Linked DNA regions of Homo sapiens. The protein of the gene in region 1 purifies or fractionates together with the protein of each later gene. This does not show direct contact. Each region holds a gene or a part of one and is shown on either strand. Other genes may lie near its edges. The genes, in order: PRKCZ, LLGL1, NIPSNAP2 and LLGL2.

Region 1 (7,107 bases):
GCTCCCTGAACACAAACGTTGTCTGAGCTGGGCCAGGCGCGGTGACTCACGCCTTTCATCCCAGCGCTTTGGGAGGCCAAGGCGGGCGGATCACGAGGTCAGAAGTTCGAGACCAGCCTGGCCAACAAAGTGAAACCTCATCTCTACTAAAACTACAAAAGTTAACCGGGCGTGGTGGCGGGCGTCTGTAGTCCTAGATACTAGGGAGGCTGAAGCAGGAGAATTGCTTGAACCTCGGAGGTGAAGGATACAGTGGGCCGAGACCACACCACTGCAGCCTGGGCAACACAGCGAGACTCAAAAAAAAAAAAAAGTCTGAGCTGAAAGAGGGAAGAGCCAGCACCAGTGTTTGTGGCCCTAGAAGAGCGGGCATCTGAGACTCAGCGTGGGAGTCTGGCCCAGGCCACCTGGGACTCCCTGAAAACACAGGTGCCTGGGGACCCCTCAGGCCCACAGGGGGCGGGGTGGGGTGGCGAGGATTGGATCTCAAGTGTGCTCAGAGGGCCCTGGGAGGACAGGCAAGGATGACGGGGTGGCCATGCCCCATGGGGGTGACTGAAGTGCTCTTCCTTTTTCTAAAGACTAGTCTTCCACGTGTCCACGCTCAGCTACCCCCACGGACAGCAGCGTCTCACCCCAGGGACAGAGTTTCTAGGGCTTTCAATAACCCAGTACTCATCCTGGCAGCCGCTTTCTGGAACTGTGTCATTGCCCTAAGGCCTGAGTGTCCCACCCCACAGCCAGTCCCCTCAGAGAGGCACCGGGTGCCCAGAGGGACGAGGAGCCAGAACGGGGAGAAGGGTACTTCACACTCTGCAGCAGAGAGGAGGAGGACCTGGGAGGGGAGAGAGGAGAGAAGGAATGGTAGGAGCAGGGAAGAGCCAGAGGGGAGACGTGCCCTAGAAGGGGGAGGAAGGTGAAGGAAGAGGTGTGGCAGGGAAGGGAGAGAGGGGAGAGCGGGAAGAGGAGGGAAAACAACAGGGAAGGAGGGAGGAAGAGGAAGGGGTGGGGAGAGAGGGGAGAGAGTCCGGGAAGGGAGGGAAGAGGAAGGGGTGGGAGCCTGGTCTCTCCAGCCTGGGAAACCAGAGTCACCGGGTGGAATTACACCCGCCCCACCACCAAAGTGCTCCCAGGGGCCAAAGCAAGGCAGAGGGAGGACGGGGCGGCCCAGAACTCCAGTGGCATTGCCTCCGAGCCTTGGTCCCAGGAATTGGACGCCGGAATGCAGGAGGGTCTGGGCCCCTGCAGCCCCTCGGGTGTGGACCTCCCTCTCGCAGGACTCCCCTGAGCTCCGCACCATCACCTGTTGCCCAGTGTGGTGGCTCCAGAATGGCAAGGAGACAGGAAGCCCAGGTCCCTGGACAAGTCCAATAGCCAGAACGTCAACCATACCAAGTTTTAACCTGCTGACCTCCAGGCCAAAAGACATGGCTGCCCTACCTCTTCAGGTAGGGCTGGACGGTCAGTCCCCCAGAAATCCCTTTCTTCTGGTTCTGGCACCAAACCCGGGCCACTGCACCCCGAAGGTTCCAGGTGCTTGCCACAGGGGAGCTGCAGAGGCCCCAACCTTCCCAAAGAAGAGACAATTGAGCCTCCTCAACAAACCCGGGGCCAAGCAGCCCCAGATGGCTGACCCGAGACCCCAAGACAAGGTTCGCAGGAAGCTGAACCCGCTCAGACTCGCAGGGCACCATAGAGACCCCCGGGGCACTGTCCTGAGAGGACGTGGCCCGGGGAAGTTGTCACCCGCCTAACCCTGCCGGCCGTCCCTGCCTCTGGGGCTCAGGTTGCCCACGCTGTAGCTGAGGACGCACCGGGGCAGGAGCAGCTTTTCGAGATCCCAAGGACCAGCCAGTGCAAGTCCGGAGCCCGCATTCTGCTCCCCTCCCTCTCTGCAGCAGCAGCCACCCTCGCGGGAGCGGAGGTCCCAGTTCGGGGCTCCTGGAGACGCGCACAGGTGGAAGAACAAACCCACGGGTCCTCCCCTCCCCACCGCCCACACTTCGGGGGGCAGCGACCCCTCCGCTGTGCCTGTGAGCCCGGCCACCTGGTGCAGCCCCCGCCACCCCCAGCAGCGCTGCCCCGAGGCGGCGGCCAAGAGTCCAGGACCCCTCCGCTCCAGCACCTGACCGCGCCCCCTCCCACAGCCAGGCAAGGGCCTCCGGGGGGCGGGTGCGACGCAAACCCCAGGGTCAGTCTCGGCCCCACCGTCTCCTCCAGAAACCCCTGTCCCCGCCCGACCGCCCCGAGCCCTGCCGGGGGCTGCATTGGAGCCACAGCGCCCGCGCCCCGGGTCTCCGGATTTTGGCTAAAGCGAGACCCCCGACCGGGTAAACGTGGAGAACGTTTAGGAAACGCTGATTTTAAGAAACCCGCCAGGAGTTTTCACAACTTGATGAAAACTTTCAGTCCTTACAGGTTTGCGGCCGGAACGTCCCCGCCCAACTTTCCAGCGAAAACGTCTACCACAATGACCGGGCCGAGGAGCTCGCGGCGCGGGGCCGACCCCAGGGAAACCCGGTCCCGGGGAAGGAGCCCGCGCTGTCCACGACGTGTCCGCGGGTGACGCTCACGGGCGGGGACCGAGGACCTCCCGCGACAGCCCCGGGCCCGCAGCGACCTCGCCGCCCCTTCCCTCTCTCCCTCTCGCGCAGGAGCCCCGACGGCTGAGCCCTCCCCGCCCTCCCTGCCTCACCCGCGCCGCTCCCCGCCCTCTCCGCCGCTCACCCCCCGTAATGCGCCTTGAGGCGGACGCGGCCGCCGCTCCCTTCCATCTTGGGGCCGGTCCTGCTGGGCATGGCGCGCTCCCCCCGCCGCCGTCAGCGCTGCGCCCCGGGAGCTCCGGCCATGGCGCGGGGCGGGGGCTCCAGGTGGGGCCGCGGCGGAACGCGGAAGGCAGCGCTCAGGACCGACGGCGCCGACCCGGTCAACTCCGCGGAACTCCGGCGGCGCGCGGGGCGGGAGCGGGGGGCGCGCGGGGCGGGACCGTCCGGCGGGGGCGGGGGGCGGTGTCCGAACATGGCGGACCGAGGTGGAGCCAGCGGCCAATCCGCGGGGCGGGCGGTCCCGGGGCGGGCGGTGGCACCTGCGGCCAATGAGGGCGAGGCGGGGCCGCCACCTGGGCCAATCCTCGGGGGACACCCGGCCGCGGCCCAATGGCGAGGCGCGGGCGGGGCTACCTGTCGGGCGGGGCTACCTGTTGGGCGGGGCGCGGCGCACCTGCGCCAATGGGACCGCGCGCGGCGCGGCTCTGCCCGGCAACCGGAGGGGCCCCGGCCTCTGGGACGGAGCGGCGCCCCCGGGAACTCGCTGGAAACGCGAGTTCTCGGCCTTCGCCCAGACCCTCCGAATCGAAACTCCTGCGGCGCGCGCTGCCAGCCCGAGGGCCCCGCCGTCCAGGGGTCCCCTGACATCTCACACTTGCGGACTGAAGCTGCGAGGAGCGGAGAACCCGGCCAGGGTCACGGACGGGAGCGTCCGGACTCGGGTTCTCTGGGCCCCAGCCCCCACTCCGCCCCCAGCGAATCCAAGGTCCCCTGTAGGGAAGGGCCGTCCACACTCGTGAGTGCAACCGCTCACTTCGCCCAGGTCAAGGACGCGGCATTGGCCCGAGTCGCCCATGACCTTCATTTCTGAAGCCACAGCCTCTCGGGCCTTACTCGAGGGGCTTGATCTGGACAATCGCCCTCCAGGCCCCTCCACCGCCGCCCAGCTCCCTGCCTCCTGGGCTCCTCCCCTGAAAATACGGTTTTCCCTGATCAGCCCATCCCTTACTGGCTGCATCCACTGAAGCCCAGACCTGCTGCCTGCAGGACCTCACCCAGGCACCAGGTGGACACCCAGACCCAGTTCCTGGCCTCGGCCCCTCTCCCCTGAGAGTGGACCTGCTCAGGCCACGCCCTCACACCCCTCACCCAGACACAGCCACCAGGACTTCAGCCACGTGCTTTCATCCCGCAGGTCGTGCCTGGCGCCTCCTTGATGCCAGGCCCTGGGGAGACCTGTGGCCACAGAACCCATGTTCTCCCTGGAGATGGACAGGAGGCCCCTCTCCTACGCAGAAGCTGTCGTTTTTTCTTCTTAAACACCGTTTGCCCCTCCCTCCACCCACCGAGCCATCTCTGCCCCTCTCTACAGCAAAGCTTCCGCCAAGCCGGCCCTGCTCCCTGTCTACCTCTCCTGCCACCACCCACTCACACGTTTTAAATACAAGCCGTCGGTTCTCAGACGTTTTCTCTTTTTTTCTTTCTTTTTCTTTTTTTTGAGATGGAGTTTCGCTCTTGCTGCCCAGGCTGAGTGCAATGGCATGATGTCGGCTCACTGCAACTTCTGCCTCCTGGGTTCAAACCATTCTCCTGCCTCAGTCTCCCAAGTAGCTGGGATTACAGGTGTCCACCACCATGCCCAGCTGATTTTTGTATTTTTAGTAGAGACGGGGTTTTTCCATATTGGCCAGGCTGGTCTCGAACTCCTGACCTCAGGTGATCCACCTGCCTTGGCTTCCCAAAGTGCTGGGATTACAGGCGTGAGCCACTGTGCCCGGCCTCAGACATTTTCTTAACTTGGCCTTTGGTATCAGACCCCTCCTGGGAAGGCTCACACATCCCTGGCCCCGGGTTCCAGCTCCCTAAATCTCCCATCCCTCGCCCTCCTGGTCTGCAGCTTTTAAAACTGTGGAGCCCCAGCCTCAGCCTTTGGCCCGCTTTGCATCCCCAGCTCAGATGGGCCCCCTGAGCTCCCAACCAACACTCACCCAGCCCCAGGCATCCTCCTAATGAGCCTCTCAGCTGACGTCTTCCCCCACTCCATCTTTCTGGGTCATCGAAGTCCCCCCAGTGGTTCCCATCACTCCTGGAGGGAAGGCCAGCTCCTCTGCCCCGGCCTCGAGGCCTCTTTGCTGCCCCGGCCTCCGTCTTTGCACGGCCACTCCCTCTTTGCACAGCCACTCCCTCTTCCAGGAGCACCTGCCTGCAGAGATCTGCTGGACTGGCACCCACACTTCCTTGAAGTCTCTAGCATACCTAATGCCCATTTCAGCAATCTACTCCTCACCCCCATCTCCATGGGGCAACCCCCTCTATCCCTCGCACAGGCACAAAGCCCCATGCCCATCAGCTGGGCATGAAGGGGGGCAGAGAGTAGAGGGTGAGGGGGCAGCCTGGCAGGGTACAGTGATGAGTGGGAACCTGCACCTGCAGCAGCCCTGGATTCAGGCACCCGTCGGCCCAGCTCCCCCACTCCAGGCCCCATGGCCAGGGCTGTGGCCTTGTCTGGAGTCTGGCCTGGCAACATGGCCTGGGCGCTTCCTGATGGGCAGGAAAGAGCAGGGTTTCACCTTAGTGGGGCGGTGCCTGGAAGGGGCCACTGGGCACCCACAGGACTTCCTGGCTGGCGTTCTGATCCAAGGAGGCAGCAAGGCCCGGTCCTTGATACCACTGCCCACAGCAGGCAGGACGGACCCTCGGTTGTGTCCTTCCCTGTCACTGGACATCTCTCCCTGGGCCTGCCCCACCCAAGGCCCCGGAGGACCCTTTCTAACCAAGGACGCCCCTGCTGGGTCAGGCCCTCGGCACTGGCCTCCCTGGGGAGATCTGTGCTGCCAGGCGGGAGCCTCCGTCCTGGAAGCCAGTCCCAGGGCCGTGGCAGTGCCCCAGTCCCAGCGAGGGAAGGTGGGGGGCGGGGCTCTATTCTCTCTGGGGTTGGGAGGGAGAGGGCAACGTCAGTGGATGGTCAACCCCAGTGTCAGACTTTGTTCAGCCCTGATGCCGCCGGTGGAGGGGGGGTCGGGACAGACACAGGTTCCGAAAGGCTCTAGCAGAGGACTGCGGGCACAGGGGCTGCCCAAAACGTCCCCAAAACCTCCCCCAGTACCTGCTCTGGCCTCCCCTCCAGGAGGCAGAGGTCTCCGCTAATGAGATCTGCAAAACAAAGGCCTGGGAGGCCCTGGACCCGCCTCTGGGCAGGCAGGGCAGGTCACAGGGAGGTTCCTAGGTCCTCTGCCCTGAGCCTGTGCCCCTGAGAGGGCCCTGAGGGCAGAGGGCGCTTCCTGAGACACGGATAGGCTCACTGGCTGGCGGTGGTGTCACTGTGTCGCCCGGCGACAGATACAGGGTGTTTGCTCTGGAATCTGCCAACGACTCCCATCCAGATCCCGGCTGAGGGCTGGGCCCTGTTAGGCCGGGTCCCCACAGCTTCTCCAGGCACCTGGCACACGGGGAATGAGTGAGTGACTCGGGTAAGGACCCCTCAAGAGTGCTGGAGCCAGGCAGCCTCCTAAGACCCCTAGTGGGTGGGGACAGAGTCATGTCCCATCGAGCCCAGCACACCGAGAAGGCACAGCCCTGGAAGCTTCCAAGGACTCACCCTGGGTCCTCCGGGGCGGGTGGGGTGTGGAGGTGACCCTTGGAGTGGGCAGGGCAGGCTCCGAGAGAGGCCTCTGGGTGGCTAAAGGCCAGGCTTTTCCACCTCAGCAGTTTCTGTAGCTCCCAAATTTTTCATAAAGTTCTCATATACTTTCATAATCATAAACACCTATTATTTTTTAAATGAAAAAAACAAGTTATGAAAGTCACACTGACTTTTTATAAAACTCAAGCAACACAGAACGGTATAGGGCAAGGTGAAGCCTTTTCCCAAAACCCCAGCTAAGCAGCAAGAACCCCGGCCGTGAAGCGGACAGCCTTCCCTCTCCCAGTGCAGGCAGCCTTCCCTCTCCCGGTGCCTGGGACCGCAGGTGGAGGTGCTAGGTGACCGCTGGGGCTTGGGGTAGGGTGCTGACCGGCAGAGGGCAGTGTGGCTGCAGGGTCTGGCTGAGGGTGGCCTCCCAGCAGGGCTGGGGCACCTGGGAGCCGCAGCTCCTGACCCCGCCAAGGTGGCTCTGTGTGGCTGCCGGGCCTACCCTGTGATTTTCCTTAGGAAGAGTCCTTTGATGATACTGTCGAGTGATGTTGAGACCTTTTAGAAGAGAGGCAGTTTACACTCAGTGTGATTCATCGGACGTCTGGGAGGGGTTGGCTGTGGCCCGTGGGGTCCCCATCACCACACCCCCAGGAGGAGGCCTCCCTCATCAGCCTCTTAAACTGCATTTGTGCTGGCTTAGTGCTTGGG
Region 2 (6,938 bases), on another chromosome or scaffold:
TTACAAACGAGGAAAGGAGGTTACATGCACTGTCCAGCATCTGCTTCCCTCATACCCCACGTCCAGTCCATTTCTGAGCCCCATCAACTCAGTTTCAAAACACACAGAAGTCACCTCCCTCCCTGCTCCAGGCCCCACCGTCACGTGCCTGGATTGGTACTCACTACAGTCTGTTCCCACAGAGGCCAGAGGGATCCTATGAAAGCCACAGCCAGATCCTTGTCCCTCCCCTGCTCAGGATCCTCCTGGGGCTCCCAGCTAAGGGAGGCTTGTGCCTCAGGGCCTTTGCACCTACTGCCCCTCTGCCTGGAACGCACTTCCTCCAGCACTTCCTGTCGCTCAGGAGTAATCTCCTCAGAGAAGCCTCCCAAGGCCACCCTGGCTGCAGCAGCCGCCCTGGCCACACCTCTCACCCCCTCGCCCTACTTTATTTGATCCACAGCACTGGCTACCATCCCAACTACAGTCTATTTTACTTTTTTGTTTTGGCTTTTCACTGTCTCCTGCACAACTATATCAGCCACCTGAGTTAACAGGTATTTGTCCTTTTTGGTAACTACTGTTGTCCCCAGCACCTTGGAGACCTCACACACAGTGGGGCTCAGTATTAACAGAGAAGGCACATTCCACAGGCGATGTGTGGGCTGGACTGGGATTTGAACCCAAGACTCAGAGTCCAAAGTCCCTGCTCACTCCTGACCTGTCTCCCACCCCCTAAGCTCAGGAATCAGGGGCCTATTCCCTAGCGATCACCTATTACCCACTTAGGTGACTAAGTCCCTTCCCCAAGACCACCCCACTTTCCACCACTGCTGCCCACGCTTCATCCTCAGCGGAGGGCCCTTACTTTCCGCCACCCCAAGGCTAGCCAGAGTGGGCTGAGCTTCACCCCCATCTGTCTCCAGCCCCCACTGCACACCCCAATTCACTGGCTGAAGAAATGACATTTAGGCCAGGCATGGCAGCTCATGTCTGTAATCCTAGCACTTTGGGAAGCCAACATGGATGGATAGATAGCTTGAACCCAGGAGTTCGAGACCAGCCTGGGCAACATGGTGAAACCCCATCTCTACAAAAAATACAAAAACTAGCCGGGCATGGTGACACGAGCCTGTAGTCCCAGCTTCAGGAGGCTGAGATGGGAGGATCACCTGAGCCAGGGAGTTGTGAGGCTGCAGTGGACTGTGATTGTGCCACTGCACTCCAGCCTGGGTGAGAGTGAGACCCCATTTCAAAAAAAAAAAAGTGACATTTAGCCCTGTGCCTGTTGCTGCCTTTCCCTGAAGGGCCATTCTCCTCTCACCTCACCCTCACAGCCTCCCCGGCACAGAAAATAGGTGCCATCTGGGGACCACGGAGCACCAGCTTCCCTTCTGGGCCCCTCTCAGGTTCCTAGCAGGTTCTCAGCCACCGTGTGAGGGTCCTGGCAGCTCTCATCGGCAATCACTGCAGACCTAGGCAGGGAAACCCTGAGACATCCCAGTGCCTCCACTACTCCAGGTCCAGCCGTCCCAGAGCCTCCTCCAAGACAAGTGTCTCCTCAAGGCAGCCCAGGGCGCCTGGCACAACACTGGCCCAGGACCACAGCAGCCCCTTGGAAAAATCCCTGCCCCTCAAGGCTAAAATCCAACCCCACTGACACAAGAACTCAAGAAAGATATTGGTGCAGCTCACTCTGACTCCGGGCAAGCCGTCACCCCTCTCAGAACCTCAATTTTCTCACCTGTATTTTGAAGATAACTCTAATTTCGAAGAGCACTGAGAGGCTCTGCCATCAGTGGGCTCTGGGGTAAGAATGAGGACAAAACCAACGTCCCCAGAGCAGTGAGCCAGGAGTGGGCTGAGGCCCTGCTCTAACATCAGTGCAGAGGGAGGCGGGGGCTGAGGCGGCCCCTTTCCCTGGCCCCTAGTGTCCCACTCCGGGAAAGGAAGGAAAAGCCTCCACCTCACTCCACCTTGGTGCAGAAAGGCAGGACAGCTGGCCCATGTGGCAGAGGGAGCCAGGGCCCACAGTATGGAGAAAAGTAGCCTCATTTCACAGCTAGGGAAACTGAGGCCCCACGATGCGAAGTGCAGTGTAGTACACAGCCAGGCATGTCCCCTGGACTCGGAGCCCCGGGCAGGGCAGAGCAGGGCAAGGCAGAGCCTGGAGCAGTGGGGGAAGGAAGGAGAGGCTCCTTGAAGGGATTTCCCAGCCGCACCCCCCACAGCTGCCTCGCCCCCACTAACTCTCTCACCCTCCTGGGTGCCAAAGCACAAAACAAACCGGGCCCCAGGGCTGTCCCAAGGGCCGAGCAGGGACGCAATGGAGCCCCTAAGAAAAAGGATAAAGAGACAGAAGTGAGCGACAGAGGTCGAGAGACTCCACAGAGACAGAGAGAGAGACACGCAGGGAGAGACAGGCAAAGAAGACTCAGAGACGCACAGGCAGCAAGAGAAATGAGAGGCAGAGAGATAAAGGGAGACAGGCAGAGATAGGAAGGGGCAGAGGCAGAGACACCCCCACCACACACACAGGCACAACTGGGGCGAGACAGCCGGTCAGCGGCGGAGAAAGAGGGACAGAGACCCAGAGACAGGCAAAGAGTCTCAGAGACAGACCCCCACACACACAGACTGGCAGAGCCAGGGCCAGAGCGGCCCGCAGAGACTCGGGGAGCAGACACGGAAAGTCGGCCGGAGACCCAGACCCACCCAGAGTCCGAGCCAGAGCGGGGCCCGCCGAGGGGGTGCGCGGCCCGGCCCGGCCCCGCCCCGCGCCGCGCTGCATGCCAGCCCCCGCCCCCCGGGCCCGACGTGGCTCCGACCCCGGGCCCCCAGCCCAGGCCCCCGTCCCGCCCCCTCCCGCCCGAGCCCGGGCCCGGGCCGCCGCCGCACCTTGTTGAAGGCGAAAAGCTCCTGCTTGAGCTTCTCGCGCTGCGGGTCGGCGCCCTGCCGCCGGAACCGAAACTTCATCATCTTGCGCCCGGCTGCAGGCGCCTCGCCCGCCGCCGCCGCCCGCAGGATGCGCCGCGCGGCCCCGCGGGTCCTAAGGCGCGGGCGGGGCGCCAGGCGGCCCGGGCGCGGGCGCGCGGGGCCGGGCCTGCACGGGGGTGGGCGCCGGGCGCGACGGACGCGCCGCCCGACCAGTGAGCGAGCCCGCCGTGCCGCCCGCCCCGCCCCTGTTGGCCAGACAATGGTGAACTGGGCCCCCGGGCTCGGCCGGGCTCGCGAAGGGACGCCCGCCTAGCATGCGCCGCGGCGCGGGGCCTGCCGGGACTTGTAGTCCATGAGCCGGGGCTCCAGCGCGGGCGGCTGGGGAAGCGCTTTGGAGGGGGATTGGCGCACGTTCCCGGGCTTGGAGGAGACTTTTTCCTCCTCCCAGAGAGCGAGCGACGTGCCCACTCATGTAATGGGGCAGCCCTGTTCCGAAAGCCAAGACAGCTCTGACTGGAACAACTCCCTGGCCCCTCTGCGCCTCAGTTTCCCCATCTACACCATTGGTCAAGTGATTGCCAAGTTTATATTTTACCAATTTCACAGAACTCCATTTCGTCTGTTCCCCGCTCTGTCAGAGCACCTCCCACCGCCGTGCTTTTGCCTTGGCTTTGTAGTCAGGAATTCTTTCCTCACCCCCAGCCCCTGGGGAACTCCTACACATCTTTCAGGACCCAACGCAAAAGGCTCTGTGTCACAGCACAGGGGATTCTTTCTTAGCCAAAGAAAGAGACGGGATCCCCAGGAGGTGGCATTTGGGACTGTTCTGGGGTTGGATTGGAGCTTTACGGAGATGGGGGAAGGACCTCCCCCCGCAGAGAACAGCGTCTGAACAAAGCTTAGCCCTGCCCCTACTCTCAGGGGCCGTCTGCCTGTCCCCACCCACCTCCCAGGCCTTTTCTCATCTGGACAATGGCCTCGAGGCTGAACCTTTCCTTCCAGGCTGAGGATAGGCCGCCTGGCTCAGGGCTGGGGCTGCGGGAGGTCCTAGAAGCTTAGGTGGGGCAGGTAGGACAGGCCCCAACCCCACCAGCTGTGTCCAGGGAGCAGGAGCTGACCTCTGAGCCCGAGGCGGCTGCCAAGCCTTGGGGCCTGGCTGTCCCCCTCCACCCACGCCAGGCCGGCGGTGTTCAGCCCTTCCCCGTATTTGGGGCTGGATCCGGAAGAGGGCCCAGGAGTGAGTGAGGAGGTGAGAGGAGGGAGAATGACGACAGTAAAGCCCCTAAGTGTCTACTGCGGGGCAGGCGCTGTTCAAAGCCCTTTCCTGGTTTCAGCTGACTTAGTGCTGTCAGTAGCTCTACGAGGGAGCCAACAATATTACCCATCCCAAATGAGGAAGCTGAGACCATCAGCCAAAGGCTGTTAGTTGTTGGCAGAGCTGCTGGACTGAGGAGGATGAGACCCCTTTGGCCACTGGCCACGCCACACCAGCACAGGCAGCAGGGACAGCTCAGAGGTCTGGGTTCTGGTCCCTGCCCTGCCTCACACAGGAAGTGTTAAGAAGTTGCTGGCTGGGCGCGGTGGCTCATGCCTGTAGTCCTAGCACTTTGGGAGGCCTTGGAGGGAGGATCTCTTGACCCCAGGAGTTTGAGACCTGACTGAGCAGTAGGGTGAGATCTCATCTCTACAGAAAAAAAATAAATAAATATTTTTTTAATTAGCTGGGCATGGTGGCCCAGCTGTAAATTCCAGCTACTCAGGAGGTTGAGGCAGGAGGATGGCTTGAGCCCAGGAGGTTGAGGCTGCTGTGAGCTGTGATCGTGCCACTGCACTCCAGCCTGGGCAACAGAGCAAGACCATCTCGAAAAAAAGGCCAGGAGCAGTGGCTCACACCTGTAATCCCAGCGCTTTGGGAGGCTGAGGCGGGCAAATCACTTGAGGTCAGGAGTTTGGGAAAAACCCAGTCTCTACTAAAAATACAAAAAATAGCCGGGCATGGTGGCAGGTGCCTGTAGTCCCAGCTACTTAGGAGGCTGAGGCAGGAGAATCGCTTGAACCCAGGAGGTGGAGCTTTCAGTGAGCCGAGATCATTTGCTCTCCAGCCTGGGCAACAAGCGTGATAAATGAAAAAAACAAACAAACAAACAAAAAAAAAACGTTGATTCACATTCCCACTTTACCATTTGGAAGCTATGTGACCTGGAACAAGTTACCTCAAATTCTCTGTGCCTCAGTTTCCTCATCAGTAAAAATGGTGATAATATTAGTATTTACCTCAAAGGGTTGTTGTGGAGATTAAATGTGTCAGGGTAATATGAACCAGAGCAACTCCATCTTGAATAGGAGGTGGGTAAAATGAGGCTGAGACCTACTGGGCTGCATTCCCAGATGGTTAAGGCATTCTAAGTCACAGGATGAGCTAGGAGGGGGTCGGCACAAAATACAGGTCATAAAGACGTTGCTGATAGAACAGATTGCAGTAAAGAAGCTGGCCAAAACCCACCAAAACCAAGATGGCCACGAGAATGACCTCTGGACATCCTCACTGCTACACTCCCATTAGCGCCATGACAGTTTACAAATGTCATGGCAACGTCATGAAGTTACTCTATATGGTCTAAAAAGGGGAGATATGAATAATCCACGTTTAGCATATCATCAGGAAATGACCACAAAAATAGGCAACTTGGCCGGGCACGGTGGCTCACGCCTGTAATCCTGGCACTCTGGGAAGCCGAGGTAGGTGGATCACCTGAGGTCAGGAGTTTGAGACCAGCCTGACCAACATGGAGGAACCCCATCTCTACTAAAAATACCAAATTAGCCGGGCATGGTGGCACATGCCTGTAATCCCAGCTACTCGGGAGGCTGAGGCAGGAAAATTGCTTGAACCCGGCGGGCGGAGGTTTCAGTGAGCCGAGATTGCACCACTGCACTCCAGCCTAGGCAACAAGAGTGAAAATCCATCTCAAAAAAACAAAGGACAACTCTGCCTATGGAGTAGCCTTTTTTTCCTTTTTCTTTTCTTTTTTCTTTTTTTTTTTTTGAGATGGAGTCTTGCTGTGTTACCCAGATTGCAGTACAGTAGCACTATCTTGGCTCACTGCAGCCTCTGCCTCCCAGGTTCAAGTGATTCTCCTGCCTCAGCCTCCCAAGTAGCTCGGACTATAGGCATGCGCCACCACACTCAGCTAATTTTTGTATTTTTAGTAGAGACCGGGTTTCACCATGTTGACCAGGCTGGTCTTGAACTCCTGACCTCAGATGATCCGCCTGCCTTGGCCTCCCAAAGTGCTGGGATTACAGGCATGAGCCGTTGCACCCGACACCCAATCTCCATTTTTCTTTTTCTTTTTCTTTTTTTTGAGACAGAGAGACAGAGTTTCACTCGGTCGCCCAGGCTGGAGTGCAGTGGTACAATCTCAGCTCACTGCAACCTTTGCCTCCCAGGTTCAAGCGATTCTCCTGCCTCAGCCTCCTGAGTAGCTGGGACTATAGGTCTGTGCCACCATGCCCAGCTAATTTTTTGTATTTTTAGCAGAGACGGGTTTTCACCGTGTTAACCAGGATGGTCTCGATCTCCTGACCTCGTGATCTGCCTGCCTTGGCCTCCCAAAGTGCTGGGATTACAGGTGTGAGCCACCGCACCCAGCCAGCAGTCCCCATTTTTCAATGGGACTTGGTTATTAGGCAGTAAGCAGCCATGCCTTTCCCAACCCCTATCTCACAGTTTTTTGGGGAGCAGGGCAACAGAACTGAGTCGAGACCACAGCTAACCATAGCTCACCGTCCTATGATGGGGCATGCACTGGGGCTGTGGGAGCCCAGAAGAGGCATCTGGCCCAGGGTCAGTGTCCTGCTGGGAGAGGACAGTGCACATGGGTTGTAATGGGTAAGGAGTGTACCTAGTGGAAGGAGCCAGGGGATAGGCAGGGAAGAGTCTCATGGCAAACGGATTCGCAAAGTGTCAGTACCCCCACCCCACAACACACACACACTTGTTAATTCAGATTCTAGGTCCT
Region 3 (7,022 bases), on another chromosome or scaffold:
TGGAATAAACACTTCTTCCTTAAGCCTTATGTAACACTTAAGTAATTTTCTAATTTAATGCTTGTTCTTATCATCAAAGCTTTCCAAGTCTCAGTCTAATTTTATGATTAAAGTAGTTTCTTCAACAATTCATTGCGAAAATGGTTTTAAAATTGTTTTTAATGTTTGAATCTATTATTGAACCATTATGATGTAACTCATAGGCCAAAACATGGGGCATTACAGTTTTTTTGTTTTTTGAGACAGAGTCTTGCTCTGTTGCCCAGGCTGGAGTGCAGTGATGAGTATCTAGGCTCACTGCGACCTCTGCCTCCCGGGTTTAAGCGATTCTTCTGCTTTAGCCTCCCAAGTAGCTGGAAATACAGGTGCCCACCACCACACCCAGGTAATTTTTGTATTTTTAGTAGAGACAGGGTTTCACCATGTTGGCCAGGCTGGTCTGGAACTCCTGACCTCAAGTGATCCGCCTGTCTCAGCCTCCCAAAGTGCTGGGATTACAGGCATGAGCCACCACACACCCAGCCTACAGTTTTGTGCTGTGTTAACGTTATACCTATCTAGAACATTTTCAAGTAGTAGTATCATGAAATTCTAAACGTATACTGTCTTTTAAAATGCATTTCAGTCCACCTCTGGAGGTATGAAGGAGGCTATCCAGCCCTCACAGAAGTCATGAATAAACTCAGAGAAAATAAGGTAATGATATTGAAAAATGTTTACTTAGACTAATGATATATAGATGTTAGTACAGAATTAAATGACTTTTCTGTCTTCAGTTTTTGTTAATAAACTTCATTTTTTTGTAACAGAAATTTTATTGTTTGGACTCCTGAAGTTGTATTTAAACATAAACAGTTGTAATACTATTCAAACAACAATTCTGACCGGGCGCGGTGGCTCACGCCTGTAATCCCAGCACTTTGGGAGGCCAAGGCAGGCGGATCACAAGGTCAGGAGATTGAGACCATCCTGGCTTACACAGTGAAACACTGTCTCTACTAAAAAAAATACAAAAAAATTAGCCGGGCTTGGTGGCAGGCACCTGTAGTCCCAGCTACTCGGGAGGCTGAAGCAGGAGAATGGCGTGAACCCGGGAGGTGGAGCTTGCAGTGAGCTGAGATTGCGCCACTGTACTCCAGCCTGGGCGACAGAGCAAGACTCTGTCTCAAAAAAAAAAAAAAAATTCTTATTGTTCTTATTATAAAAGTCAATTATGCTTTGAAACTGATAAGGTGGTACTTTGAAACCGGTGACTGGGCTGGGTGCGGTAACTCATGCTTGTAATCCCAGCACTTTGGGAGGCCAAGGCAGGCATATCAGTTGAGGCCAGGAGTTTGAGACCAGCGTGGCCAACATGGCAAAACCTCATCTCTACTAAAAATACAAAAATTAGCCGAGCATGGTGGTGCACAACTGTAATCCCAGCCACTCGGGAGGCTGAGGCACGAGAATTGCTTGAACCCAGAAGGCAGAGGTTGCAGTGTGCCGAGACTACACCGCTGCACTACAGCCTGGGCAGCAGAGTGAGACTCTGCCTCAAAAAAACAACACAAAAAAAACCCCCAAAAGACTGGTGACTGGTGTATCAATCAGCATGGCAGGCACAATTAGCTCTGGATGACCTAAAACTGTCTAATTCAGGAACTGTTTGTCACACACATAGAGTTTATCTTGGGCTGACTTTGCTTTCCACCCTCCCTTCACTAGCAGGTGTTTGTCAATAGGGAGAAATTTAAAAGCCACACATCATTAAGAAAGAAATTCTTTTGTATAGATTCCCAGACAAATATAAATAGGTTTTGAATTATCTGCTCTTTTGTAGTCTGCATGCTACTTCTATTGATGTGCCATCAAACACTGTTAGAAGAATCTAAAAATATAGCAAATTAAATTTGTTTGCATTGCCACCTAAATAATTAGGATGACCAAGTAATTTGTCATCTAAACCTGGACACTTTTGAGAATGAAAAGGAATGCTGTTAATGATTATGCAAGCTCAACAGATGTAAACTGGGACTGTCTCAGGCCAACTGGGACCTGTTGATTACCCTATTATAGTATTCTGTAGGAACATCAATGTTACTGAAATGGGCTTATATGTAAGTATCAGAAGATTTCATGAGCACATTTTTTTCACTCAAAGGAATTTTTGGAATTTCGTAAGGCAAGAAGTGACATGCTTCTCTCCAGGAAGAATCAGCTCCTGTTGGAGTTCAGTTTCTGGAATGAGCCTGTGCCAAGATCCGGACCTAATATATATGAACTCAGGTCTTACCAACTCCGAGTAAGTACAGAAATATAAGTTATTCCTTTTACTCCTCTGTGAAAAAGCACAAGCATTTTGTAAGGCTGACAACAGAACTTGTGTGTACATTCTGTGATGTATGTCTAGCATTATATGTATATATATGTATTTTTTTAAGACTGGGTCTCACACTGTCACCAAGGCTAAGCTCTTTTGCTTTTTATGGCCTTACACATAATGCTTATTATTTGATATTTTTCTAAATAACATATTTGTTTTTAAGAAGAAAGACCTAAAGTGCAGGATAAGGTACAATATGTAACATCTGTTGTGGTTAAAGGAGAGCAGCTAATAAACACTGTGACTGTTGAACAAATTATATAACATGATAAGAGTAAAAGGCAATAATATAACACTTTCTAGAAATTTTCCTACTGAGGACTAGAAAGAAAGCCCCACATAGCAGCATTATTAAAGTGGCTAATGCCTGTAATCCCAGCACTTTGGGAGGCCAAGGTTGGAGGATTGCTTGAGCCAGGAAGCTTGAGACCAGCCTGAACAACATAGTGAGACCCTGTCTCTATTAAATTAAAAAGTAAAGTTTTGGCTGGGTGTGGTGGCTCATGCCTGTAATCCCAGCTTTTTGGGAAGTCAAGGCAGGTGGGTGACCTGAGGTCAGGAGTTTGAGACCAGCTTGGCCAACATGGTGAAACCCCATCTCTTACTAAAAATATAAAAAATTAGCCAGGCATGGTGGCGGGCGCCGGTAATCCCAGCTACTCAGGAGGCTGAGGCAGGAGAATTGCTTGAACCCAGGAGGCGGAGGTTTCAGGAGCTGAGATTGAGCCACTGCACTCCAGCCTGGGTGACGGAGCAAGATTCTGTCTCAAAAAAAAAAAAAAAAAAGGTTTTTTGAAGTTAGTTTTGTCACTTAATGTTTTTTCTACTGCTGTTTGCTATTTCTGTATTTTTTTTTTCACAGAAGAACTAACAAACCAAATCTAAATCTGTTTTCAGCCAGGAACCATGATTGAATGGGGCAATTACTGGTGAGTATATTACTGAATGGTGATTTTTTAAGTCTTGTGAATAGATTAGTTTAGGCCATAGTGTTAATTCTAGGGAAAAAAATCTGAGGATAGTACTGTGACTTAACACTGCACTAATGTTTCGTTTGATGTTTTTATTATGAGATTTTTCAAACATACAAAACTAGAGAGAATAATGGGGCTCCCCTTCCACATCCATCTCTTAGCTTCAATAATTAACACATGGCCAATCTTGTTTAGGCCTAACTCCTTCAACCCAGATTGTTTGGAATTAAATCCCAGACAGCATTCTATTTCATTCATAAATATTTCAGTACTATATATATTTCTAAAAGATAAGCACCTTTTTTTTAAAAGCAAAACCAATATTGCATAAGGTTAGTTTACATACTTCTTGGATATCATCTTTTCTGAAACGTTACTTTTGTCATATATACACACCATGTCAATAATGGTTTCTTCTTTTTTTCCTTGCTAGTTTGAGTAGAAAAATAACAATTTTTCCACAAGTTGATATGTAGATTCAGCAGAATCCCTATCAAACTCCCAGCAGGCTTTAGAAGTGCAAAAGACTAGCCAGGTGCACTGTGGCTCATGCCTGTAATCCCAGCACTTTGGGAAGCCAAGGCAGGAGAATCACTCAAGTCCAGGAGTTCAAGACCAGCCTGGGCAACATAGTAAGACCCCCAACCTCTACCAAAATAAATAAATAAATAAAACTAGCCAGGTGTGATGCCACATGCCTGAGGTCCCAGGTATTTGAGAGGCTGAGTAAGAGAATTGCTTAAGCCCAGAAGATGGAGTTTGCAGTGAGCCAAGATTGCACCACTGCACTCCAGCCTGGGCAACAGAGTGAGACCCTGTCTCAAAAAAAAAAAAAAAAAAAAGTCCGGGCATGTTGGCTCACACCTGTAATCTCAACACATTGGGAGGCTGAGGTGGGCAGATCACCTGAAGTTAGGAGTTCGAGACCAGCCTCGCTAACATGGCAAAACCCCATCTCTACTGAAAATATAAAGATTAGCCGAGCGTGGTGGTGCACTCCTGTAATCCCAGCTACTTGGGAGGCTGAGGCAGGAGAATTGCTTGAACCCAGGAGGCAGAGGTTGCAGTGAGCTGAGATCACACCACTGTGCTCTAGCCTAGGTGACAGAGTGAGACTCCTTTTCAAAAAAATAAAATAAAAATAAAAATAAAGACTGGGCATGATGGCTCATGCCTGTAATTCCAGCACTTTGGGGAGGCTGAAGGAGGAGAATTGCTTCAGCCCAGACGTTTGAGACTTTGAGACCAGCCTGGGCAACATGACGAAACCCCAACTCTACAAAAAAATACAAAAATTAACCGGGCATGGTGGCACACACTTGTAGTCCCAGCTCCTCGGGAGGCTGAGGTGGGAGGATCACCTGAGCCTTAAAGGTGGAGGCTGCAGTGAGCCATGATTGTACTACTATTCAGCCTGGGAGAGAATAAGACCCTGTCTCAAAAAAATAAAAAATTAGGGCGGGGATGGTGGCTCACACCTGTTATCCCAGCACTTTGGGAGGCCAAGGTGGGAAGATCACTTGAGGTCAGGAGATTGAGACCAGCCTGACCAACTTGGTGAAACCCTGTCTCTACTAAAAATACAAAAATTAGCCACGTATGGCGGTGTGCACCTGTAGTTCCAGCTACTCAGGAGGCTGAGGCAGGAGAATCACTTGAACCTGGGAGACAGAGGTTGTAGTGAGCCAAGATCACCCCATTGCACTATAGCCTGGGTGACAGCAGACTGTTTCAAAACAAAACAAAAAATTGCCTTACTTTCAGTGATACTAAAAAAAAAAATTTAATTAAAAAGACAAGTCATATACTGGAATAAAATATTTGCAAATCATATGTCTGATAAGCAAATTGAATTCAGAATAGATAAATAATTCTTACAACTCAATAATAAGAATACAGATAACTCAATTAAAAAATGGGTAAAGAATTTGAAAAGACAGCAGCTGGGTGTGGTGGCTCACACCCGTAATCCTAGCACTTTGGGAGGCCAAGGCAGGAGGATCGCTTGATGCTAGGAGTTGGTGACCAGCCTGGGCAACATGGTGAAACCCTGTCTCTATAAAAAAAAAAAAAAAAAAAAAAAAAAACTTGCCAGGCGTGGTGGTGGCACATGCCTGTAGTCTCAGCTATTCAGGAGGCTGAGGTGGGAGGATTGCTTGAGCCTGGGGAGGTGGAGACTGCAGTGAGCCATGATCATGCCACTGCACTCCCAGTGAGACCCTGTCTCACAAAAATAAAAAATAAATTGAAAATGGAATTAGTGTGATTCAGCAGTCCCACTTCTGGATATATATCCAACAGAATTCAAAGCAGATCTCAAAAAGATTCGCATACCCATGTTTATCATAGCTTTATTTGCAGTAGCCAAGAGGTAGAAACAACCCACATATCCATCAATAGATAAATGGATAAAGAAATTGTGGGCTGGGTGCGGTGGCTCACACCTGTAATCCCAGCACTTTGGGAGGCCAAGGCAGGCTGGTCACCCGAGCTCAGGAGTTTGAGACCAGCCTGGCCAACATGGCAAAACCCCGTCTCTACTAAAAATACAAAAATTAGCTGGGCGTGGTAGCGTGCACCTGTAGCCCCAGCTACTCAGCAGGCTGAGGCAGGAGAATCACTTGAACCCGGGAGGTGGAGGTTGCAGTGAGCTGAGATCGCGCCACTGCCCTCCAGCCTGGCAACAGAGCGAGACTTCATCCCCCGCCTCCAAAAAAGAAGGAAGTCTTGTCTTATACTGCAATATGGTGAACATTGAGGAGGATGTAATGCTAAGTGAAATAAGAGGACAAATAGTGTATCATTCTCCTTATGTGAAGTATCCAGTGTTGCCAAAATCATAGAAACAGAAAGTGGAAAGGTGGTTGCCGGGAGCTGGGCAGAGAGGGAATACGGAATTGGTGTTTATTGAGTATAGAGTTTCAGTTTTACAAAATGAAAATGTTTTGGAGATCTGTGGCATAACAGTGTAAATATACTGGACACTGCATAAAAATGGGTAAGATGGTAAATTCAATGTTAACGTGTTTTTTTTACCACAATAAAAAATACGTTTAAAAAATGTTTAGGCCAGGTGCAGTGGCTCACAGCTACTTTGGGAGGCTAAGGTGGGCAGATCACCTGAGATCAGGAGTTTGAGACCAGCCTGGGCAACATGGTGAAACCCCATCTCTACAAAAAATACAAAAATTAACCAGGTGTGGTAGCACATGCCTGTAATCTCAGCTGCTTGGGAGGCTGAGGCACGAGAATCACTTGAACCTGGAAGGCAGAGGTTGCAGTGAGCTGAGATTGTGCCACTGCACTTCAGCCTGGGCTACAGACCCTGTATCAAAAAAAAAATTTTTTTTTAAATAAATTTTAAAACTTTTTAACGGACAAAGGATTTGAATAGGATTTCACCAAAGAAAATACATGAATGCCCATAAGCTTATGGAAAGGGACTCAACCTTCTTAGTCATTATGGAAATGCAAAGTGAAACTATAATGGGATACCAGTTCCTGCACACTGGGACAGCTGTAACTTAAAAGAGATAGATAATAACGTGTTAGTGAGGTGAGGAGAAAGTGGACCCTTCCGATATTGCTGATGGGAATGTAAAATGGTGCAGCCACTTTGGAAATAGTCTAGTAGTCCCTCAGAAATTACATGTGGGCTGGACGCAGTGGTTCACGCCTGTAAT
Region 4 (7,022 bases), on another chromosome or scaffold:
CCCTGCCTCCCTCAGCTCCCCACCTCACCACCAGAAAAGCAAGTTACAGGGACCCCTCTTGTCGCTAGGGATGTTTTTAATTTAAAAAAATTTTTTTCGGCACTTTGGGAGGCTGAGGCGGGCAGATCACTTGAGGTCAGGAGTTCAAGGCCAGCCTGGTCAATGTGGTAAAACCCTGTCTCTACTAAAAATATTTTAAAAGTTATCAGGGCGTGGTGGCACATGCCTGTAATCCCAGCTACTTGGGAGGCTGAGATGGGAGAATCGTTTGAACCTGGGAGGCAGAGGTTGCAGTGAGCCAAGATTGTGCCACTGCACTCCAGCCTGGGCAACAGAGTGAGACTCTGTCTCAAAAACTTTTTTTTTTTTTTTTTTTTTTTTTGTGGAGACAGGGTCTTGTGATCTTGCCCAGCCTGGTCTTGAACTCCTGGGCTCAAGCAACTCTCTCGCCTTGGCCTCTCAAAATGCTAGGGTTACAGGCATGAGTCACTGCACTCCCAGCCTGCAGTTTTGTTTTTTAACCTATCTCGATAAGAATCAGAGGTGGACTGGCCCCAGGGCCCTATCCACAAGCAGAGATGGGGTGGCCTTGGGCCAGGAGAGCAGGGCTCGGCAGCTGTCTTCCAAATTCCACCCCCACTCCCACAGGCGGCAGAGAGTGGAGAGGGCTCTGCCTGGCAGGGACAGTCCTTCCCCGGCCTGAGGCTGGATGTTGTCCAGTTGGGTCATCTTTTATCCAGAGCACTGGTTCTGGCCGACTGGGGGCTCCCAGTGTTTTCAGAGATGAAAAACCGGATCAGGTTGGGCACCCCGCCAGTCTGATCTGTGCTCCCCTCAGGGCAGGGCCCAAGGGAGTTGAGAGATGAGGGACCACCTCCAATAGCTTGGCTGCCACCTCCAGCGGAGCCTGACCTCCCTCTTCCCCTCTGCCCGGTGTGGGGGAGGGGTATGGAGCACTCGAGTTCCAGGCTGGGCTGGTGTACACAGGGGGCCAGGGCCTTGCTGCGGGCTCAGCCTTCCCTCGGCTGGTTAATCATTGCCAGGCCACAGCCAGACTCTAGTTACCAATCCCTGGTGCCAAGACTAATGGGCCAAGGCTGTTGGTGATAGGCCCCCTGGGGTGCCGTGTGTTTTTTCACAGGTGCTACCAAGCGACAGCCAACATGTCTTTTGCAGCTCAGGATCAGGGTGGCAGCCTGACAGTTGCCAGGGTAGGGCTTCGCCTTTCTATGGAGTTGCTCCCACCGGCCTGACTGGGAAAAATCTCCCAGGGATCAGGTCACTGGCCTGGTGCCCCAGGGCCAGGGCTGCTGTGTCTCCTCCCCACCCTAGGCTCCATGCATGGGTCCTGCTGCCTCGGGGGAGGGCAGCCCCTCTCTGTGTTTGCATCATTGCACATGGGCCCCGAGGGCCTGGCACTCAAGGCAGGCAGGGGATGGTGTCCGACCTTCCAGAGCTTTCCTGAGCCTACTCCTAGCTACGGAGCCCCAGGCGTGGAGTTCATGGGGCTGCACCAGGAGAACAACGCTGTGACGCAGATCCACCTCCTGCCCGGCCAGGTGAGGGACCTGGGGTGGGACAGGAAGCCACTTCCATGCCCTCCTTGCCTTCACTGCTTCCAGCAGGGCTGGTGTGGAGAGGCTGGCATTCGGTGGCCCTGGGTTTGCTGCTGATGGAAAGACCTGGGACCCCCTCCCTTTCCACAGCTGGGGCTCATGGGCCACCCTGGGAGTGGCCAGGGGGTCTTTTAAACAACTGGGGCTGCGTGGCCCCAGTGTGTAAAGGCCTTGCCTGGGTAGCAAGACCACATGATCCCGTCGTGTGCCCTCGCCAGTGCCAGCTGGTCACCCTGCTGGATGACAACAGCCTGCACCTTTGGAGCCTGAAGGTCAAGGGCGGGGCATCGGAGCTGCAGGAGGATGAGAGCTTCACACTGCGTGGACCCCCAGGGTAAGGGCTCAATCCCCAGCCCCTTCCACTCCCAGCCCAGCCTGACCCTTGCCCTTAGCTCTGGAGTGGACTCACCCTTTGTGAGGCCTGTTGCGCCCCTGGCAGTGACTGGCATGCGTTTGGCCCGATGCATCGCCACACTCAGGTGCTCCGAGTGGAGTGGGCGGGGCTGCAGCCTGCCTCCTCCATCCACACCACGCCTCCTCCATCCGCACCCCACCTCCTCCATCCGCACCCCGCCTCCTCCATCCGCACCCCACCTCCTCCATCCACACCACGCCTCCTCCATCCGCACCCCACCTCCTCCATCCGCACCCCGCCTCCTCCATCCGCACCCCGCCTCCTCCATCCGCACCCCGCCTCCTCCATCTGCACCCCGCCTCCTCCATCCGCACCCCGTGTTATGCTGGAGGGTCCCTGGCGTCTTTCCTGCCTCCTAGCCCAGGCTCTCTGCCATCTGTCTCCTGTCTTGGCAGAAAGTGACCAATGTTTGTCCTGGCTTGAAATGTTATGACCTCATTAAAGGGCCTTATGGGCTTGTTTTCCGAGGAGTCAGGGGACCCCGTCCATGGCATCTCCCCTGCTGGGCAGTGGTCGGCTCACGGGCAGCTGTTCTTGTCACAGGGCTGCCCCCAGTGCCACACAGATCACCGTGGTCCTGCCACATTCCTCCTGCGAGCTGCTCTACCTGGGCACCGAGAGTGGCAACGTGTTTGTGGTGCAGCTGCCAGCTTTTCGTGCGCTGGAGGACCGGACCATCAGCTCGGACGCGGTGCTGCAGCGGTGAGCCCAGAGCCCAGCTGCTGTTAACTCCATCCCCTCAAGTTAGGCATGGCTTCTCCCCTTGGTCCCAGGACTCTGTCAGGAGCTGTCATTTCTCTGCTGGGAATTCCATGGGGCTATAGCAGGGGAGGCTCTTGGCTTCCTACCTGTCACCTACTGAGAACCTATTGGCCTGTCATAGGTTAGCATCATAGCACTAAAAAGGGGGCTTTGAGGGTCCCTCGTCTAAAGGCCCCAAATGACTGTGTAATGTCACCGACTGTCAGTCCAGTGTCCTTTGCACTTGCCATGGGTTTCAGAACCCCAGGGGCTCCGCAGCGGGGAAGTCGGGCCCAGACCTCCCTGTGTCACTGGGGCAGCTCCTGGTGCCACCCTTTGCGGTGGGTACTTTGCTGAGGTTCCATTTGCTCGCAAGCTCCGTGGCTAAAAAGCCTTGACCGCCACAGGCATGTGGGTCTGTTGAGATCGTTTCAGAAGCTTTGCTCCTTGTTGATGATACTACATTAGAGAGGGAGTTGGATCAGGTCCGGGTGGGAGAAGGGGACGGGGCCCAAAAAAAGAGAGGAGATAGCATCTGACAAGATCATGTTGGGGCCGGGTCGGTCATGGTGGAATGATCTGTGGTTCCAAGGGGCAGGAGGAGGCCAGGGTGCTGGGCCCCTGGCCCTGCAAGGCTTTGGACTGGGCCTGGGACACACTCCTGCAGCTGGCCAGCCCAGCTCTCCAGCCCTGGGTGGTGATGAAGCAGGGCCCGTCTGCCCAGGGCAGGGCATGACTGGGCTGGGAGGATTCCCACTTGGAGCTGTGTCCCTCTGAGTGCAGACCTCTGCCTTTCCCGTTCAGCAGGGTAGGGCTGGGGCAGTGTGTCCAAGGTCAGAGCAGAACACTTTGCAGGATGACAGGTACCACAGTGGGACACAGCCTGTGGGCAGGACGGCATGGGACCTGCGCCCCAGCAGGTGGCCACACCAGTGCCCAGCCTCACCCTGTAGTTAGCTGGCGGGAATCTAGTCGGCGGGGGGGCCCAAGTGCCCTGAGAGCCCCTCCTGCCAGTTTATTTATATTATATTATATTATATTTTATTTCATTTTTGAGATGGAGTTTCACTCTTGTTCCCCAGGCTAGAGTGCAATGGCACGATCTTGGCTCACTGCAACCTCTGCTTCCTGGGTTCAAGCTATTCTCCTGCCTCAGCCTCCCGAGTAGCTGGGATTACAGGCATGCGCTACCACACCCAGCTAATTTTGTATTTTTAGTAGAGACAGGGTTTCTCCATGGTGGTCAAACTAGTCTCGAACTCCCGACCTCAGGTGATTGACCCGCCTCAGCCTCCCAGAGTGCTGGGATTACAGGCATGAGCCACAGCGCCTGGCCCAGTTTGTTTATTTATTAAAAAAAAAAAAAAAAAAAAAAAAAAAAAACAAAGAAAAAACATTTTTTTTGAGAGAGTCTTACTCTGTCCCAGGCCGAAGTGCAGTGGCAAGATCTCAGCTCACTGCAACCTCTGCTTCCTGGGTTCAAGTGATTCTCCTGCCTCAGCCTTCCGAGTAGCTGGGATTACAGGTGCACGCCATCACACCCGGCTTATTTTTGTATTTTTAGTAGAGACGGGGTTTCACCATGTTGGCCAGGCTGGTCTTGAACTCCTGACCTCAGGTGATCCACCCACCTCGGTCTCCCAAAGTGCTGGGATTACAGGTGTGAGCCACCAGGCCCAGCCCCTTTTGGCAGTTTAAATTCTCGTCCTCTTGATGACACTTATCTAAGTTTTTAAAACGTGCAACCCTTTAGTCTCATAACTGTCTCTGAGAAGTCTCTGTCCTAAAGATATAGGATAAGAATGATCATTGTAGGGCTGTTTTTAATGGCAAAAAGTTGGAAGCCCTCTAATTGTCTAACAATTTTCATCTGTGTAAGGACATTATTTGCATTTATTAAGAATATCTAGATGGACACAGTTGCTCACACTTTGGGAGGCTGAGGTAGGAGGATTGCTTGAGGCCAGGAATTTGAGACTAGCCTGGGCAACATAGCAAGACCCTGTCTCTCCTCACAAAAAATAAAAATTAGTTGGGCAAGGCGGCACACGTCTGCAGTCTCAGCTACTTGGGAGGTGGGAGGATCACTTGAGCCCAGGAGTTGGAGGCTGCAGTGAGCCATGATCAGGTCACTACCCTCCAGCCTGGGTGACAGAATGAGATCCTGTCTCTAAAAAGATTAAAAATTAGGCCGGGCGCGGTGGCTCACGCCTGTGATCCCAGCACTTTGGGAGGCGGAGGCGGGTGGATCACCTGAGATCAGGAGTTCGAGACCAGCTTGGGCAACATGGCGAAACCCCGTCTCTACTAAAAGTATAAAAAATTAGCCTGGCATGGTTGTGGGTGCCTGTAATCCCTGATACTCGGGAGGCTGAGCAGGGAGAATTGCTTGAACCCCGGAGGTGGAGGTTGTGGTGAGCCGAGGTCACACCACTGCACTCCAGCCTGGGCAACAGAGCGAGACTCCCATCTCAAAAAAAAAAAATTAAATATTGAATATTAAAGTCCCCTTCAACTCTCACTCTTGATTCAAATTCTAATGTCAGTGAGGTCAGTGCTAGCAGTAGATGTGCCAGATATAGATAATGTGGAGAGCTTGGGTTTAGTGTGGCTTGGGTCCAGGCTGGGTCCACTTCCCACATCCTTGCTGTTGGCTGTTGGTCCTGTGCCTGCTGCCTTGTGGTTTTTTTGTTGGCTGCAACACCTCCAGCCCTCACGGCAGCATTCCAGGCCTGGAGACGGGGCAGGGGTCAAGGCTCCAGGGCCAGGCCAACTCACACAGAGTTTTGTTTTATGGGGCTAAAAAACTTCTTTATTATTAAACACTCCCTTTTGCAAAAATGCACTGAATATGAATGTACAGTTTAACAGATTCTTGTAGAGCATCCTTGCAGCCTTCCTGCCGGGCATAGAAATAGAACTTTGATGCCCTCCGGAGGTCTTATGCACCCTTCCTAGTCAAGGCTCCCTCTTGCCCCCACATTGACTTTTCCAGAAGTCACTGCCTTGCCTTGCCTTATAATTGTACCGCCTGTGTTTACATCACTGGAGGTTGTGTCCATGTCTCTGTCTTGTTCTACATGCTGCCCTTCTCCCCTTGGTGACATGTCCTAGCCATCTTTCTTTCTTTTTTTTTGGAAATGGAGTCTCACTCTGTCACCCAGGCTGGAGTGCAGTGGCACGATCTCGGCTCACTGCAACCTCCGCCTCCTGGGTTCAAGCAATTCTCCCGCCTCCGCCTCCCAAGTAGCTGGGGTTATAGCCATGTGCCACCACGCCCAGCTAATGTTTTATATTTTTAGTAGAGACAGGGTTTTGCCATGTTGGCCAGGCTGCTCTCAAACTCCTGACCTCAAGTGGCCTGCCCACCTTGGGCTCCCAAAGTGCTGGGATTACAGGCATGAGCCACCACGCTCGGCCATCCACTGCGCCCAGCCCCTAGCCATATTTCTATGCTGGCACATGGAGCAGCCACCTCTGCATAGGGAGCCCCATGGCTGTGCCATGCTGGGGGCCATTCCCCCTGGTGGACGGCATCGGAGGCTCACGGCACTCCCCTCGCCCAGGTTGCCAGAGGAGGCCCGCCACCGGCGTGTGTTCGAGATGGTGGAGGCACTGCAGGAGCACCCTCGAGACCCCAACCAGATCCTGATCGGCTACAGCCGAGGCCTCGTTGTCATCTGGGACCTACAGGGCAGCCGCGTGCTCTACCACTTCCTCAGCAGCCAGGTAGGCAGTGCCCAGGACATGGCAGGCGCCATGTTGCTCTCCCAGGGCCCCAAGTGGCACATACACACTGTGCAGAGGCATGGGGTGCAGGCGATGGGAACGCCGCCTCGGTCCAGCGTGCTGCCCTCTGTCCCTCTCCTCTTCCTCCATAGCAACTGGAGAACATCTGGTGGCAGCGGGACGGCCGCCTGCTCGTCAGCTGTCACTCTGACGGCAGCTACTGCCAGTGGCCCGTGTCCAGCGAAGCCCAGCAACCAGAGCCCCTCCGCAGCCTCGTGCCTTACGGTCAGTGTTTCACCCGCCGGGCAGGGCCCACCCCCAGTGCCTCCTGGATTCAGGTGCAGGTTGCTCAATTCTGAAGCAAACTCCAGGGCCAGAGAGGGTAAAGGCTTTGTCCAAAGCCACACAGCAGGGTTCGCCTCACCCAGTTTCTTGGGGAACTTCTCGGAGCAAGATTCCCAAGCACAGGTCTACCATGTGGATGTGGCATGAGCTAGAGGGATCTGTGCCTGTGGGGACTG

What was found.
Region 2: the proteins of PRKCZ (region 1) and LLGL1 purify together in Homo sapiens (affinity purification with mass spectrometry; 7 studies listed by BioGRID and IntAct, with this or other methods). This does not show direct contact.
Region 3: the proteins of PRKCZ (region 1) and NIPSNAP2 purify together in Homo sapiens (affinity purification with mass spectrometry; 4 studies listed by BioGRID and IntAct, with this or other methods). This does not show direct contact.
Region 4: the proteins of PRKCZ (region 1) and LLGL2 purify together in Homo sapiens (affinity purification with mass spectrometry; 8 studies listed by BioGRID and IntAct, with this or other methods). This does not show direct contact.

The regions. Positions count from the first base shown.
Region 1 is NC_000001.11:2,046,322-2,053,428, reverse strand, and holds the start of PRKCZ (protein kinase C zeta type), read right to left. Parts: upstream 3,019-7,107; 5' UTR 2,799-3,018; coding exon 2,728-2,798; intron 2,674-2,727; exon of another isoform or gene 2,417-2,673; intron 1-2,416. UniProt on the Homo sapiens protein: Calcium- and diacylglycerol-independent serine/threonine-protein kinase that functions in phosphatidylinositol 3-kinase (PI3K) pathway and mitogen-activated protein (MAP) kinase cascade, and is involved in NF-kappa-B activation, mitogenic signaling, cell proliferation, cell polarity, inflammatory response and maintenance of long-term potentiation (LTP).
Region 2 is NC_000017.11:18,221,703-18,228,640, reverse strand, and holds the start of LLGL1 (lethal(2) giant larvae protein homolog 1), read right to left. Parts: upstream 3,007-6,938; 5' UTR 2,959-3,006; coding exon 2,878-2,958; intron 1-2,877. UniProt on the Homo sapiens protein: Cortical cytoskeleton protein found in a complex involved in maintaining cell polarity and epithelial integrity. Involved in the regulation of mitotic spindle orientation, proliferation, differentiation and tissue organization of neuroepithelial cells.
Region 3 is NC_000007.14:55,981,585-55,988,606, forward strand, and holds part of NIPSNAP2 (protein NipSnap homolog 2), read left to right. Parts: intron 1-625; coding exon 626-696; intron 697-2,143; coding exon 2,144-2,284; intron 2,285-3,262; coding exon 3,263-3,294; intron 3,295-7,022. UniProt on the Homo sapiens protein: Protein involved in mitophagy by facilitating recruitment of the autophagy machinery required for clearance of damaged mitochondria.
Region 4 is NC_000017.11:75,556,678-75,563,699, forward strand, and holds part of LLGL2 (LLGL scribble cell polarity complex component 2), read left to right. Parts: intron 1-1,477; coding exon 1,478-1,559; intron 1,560-1,834; coding exon 1,835-1,950; intron 1,951-2,574; coding exon 2,575-2,733; intron 2,734-6,338; coding exon 6,339-6,501; intron 6,502-6,653; coding exon 6,654-6,786; intron 6,787-7,022. UniProt on the Homo sapiens protein: Part of a complex with GPSM2/LGN, PRKCI/aPKC and PARD6B/Par-6, which may ensure the correct organization and orientation of bipolar spindles for normal cell division.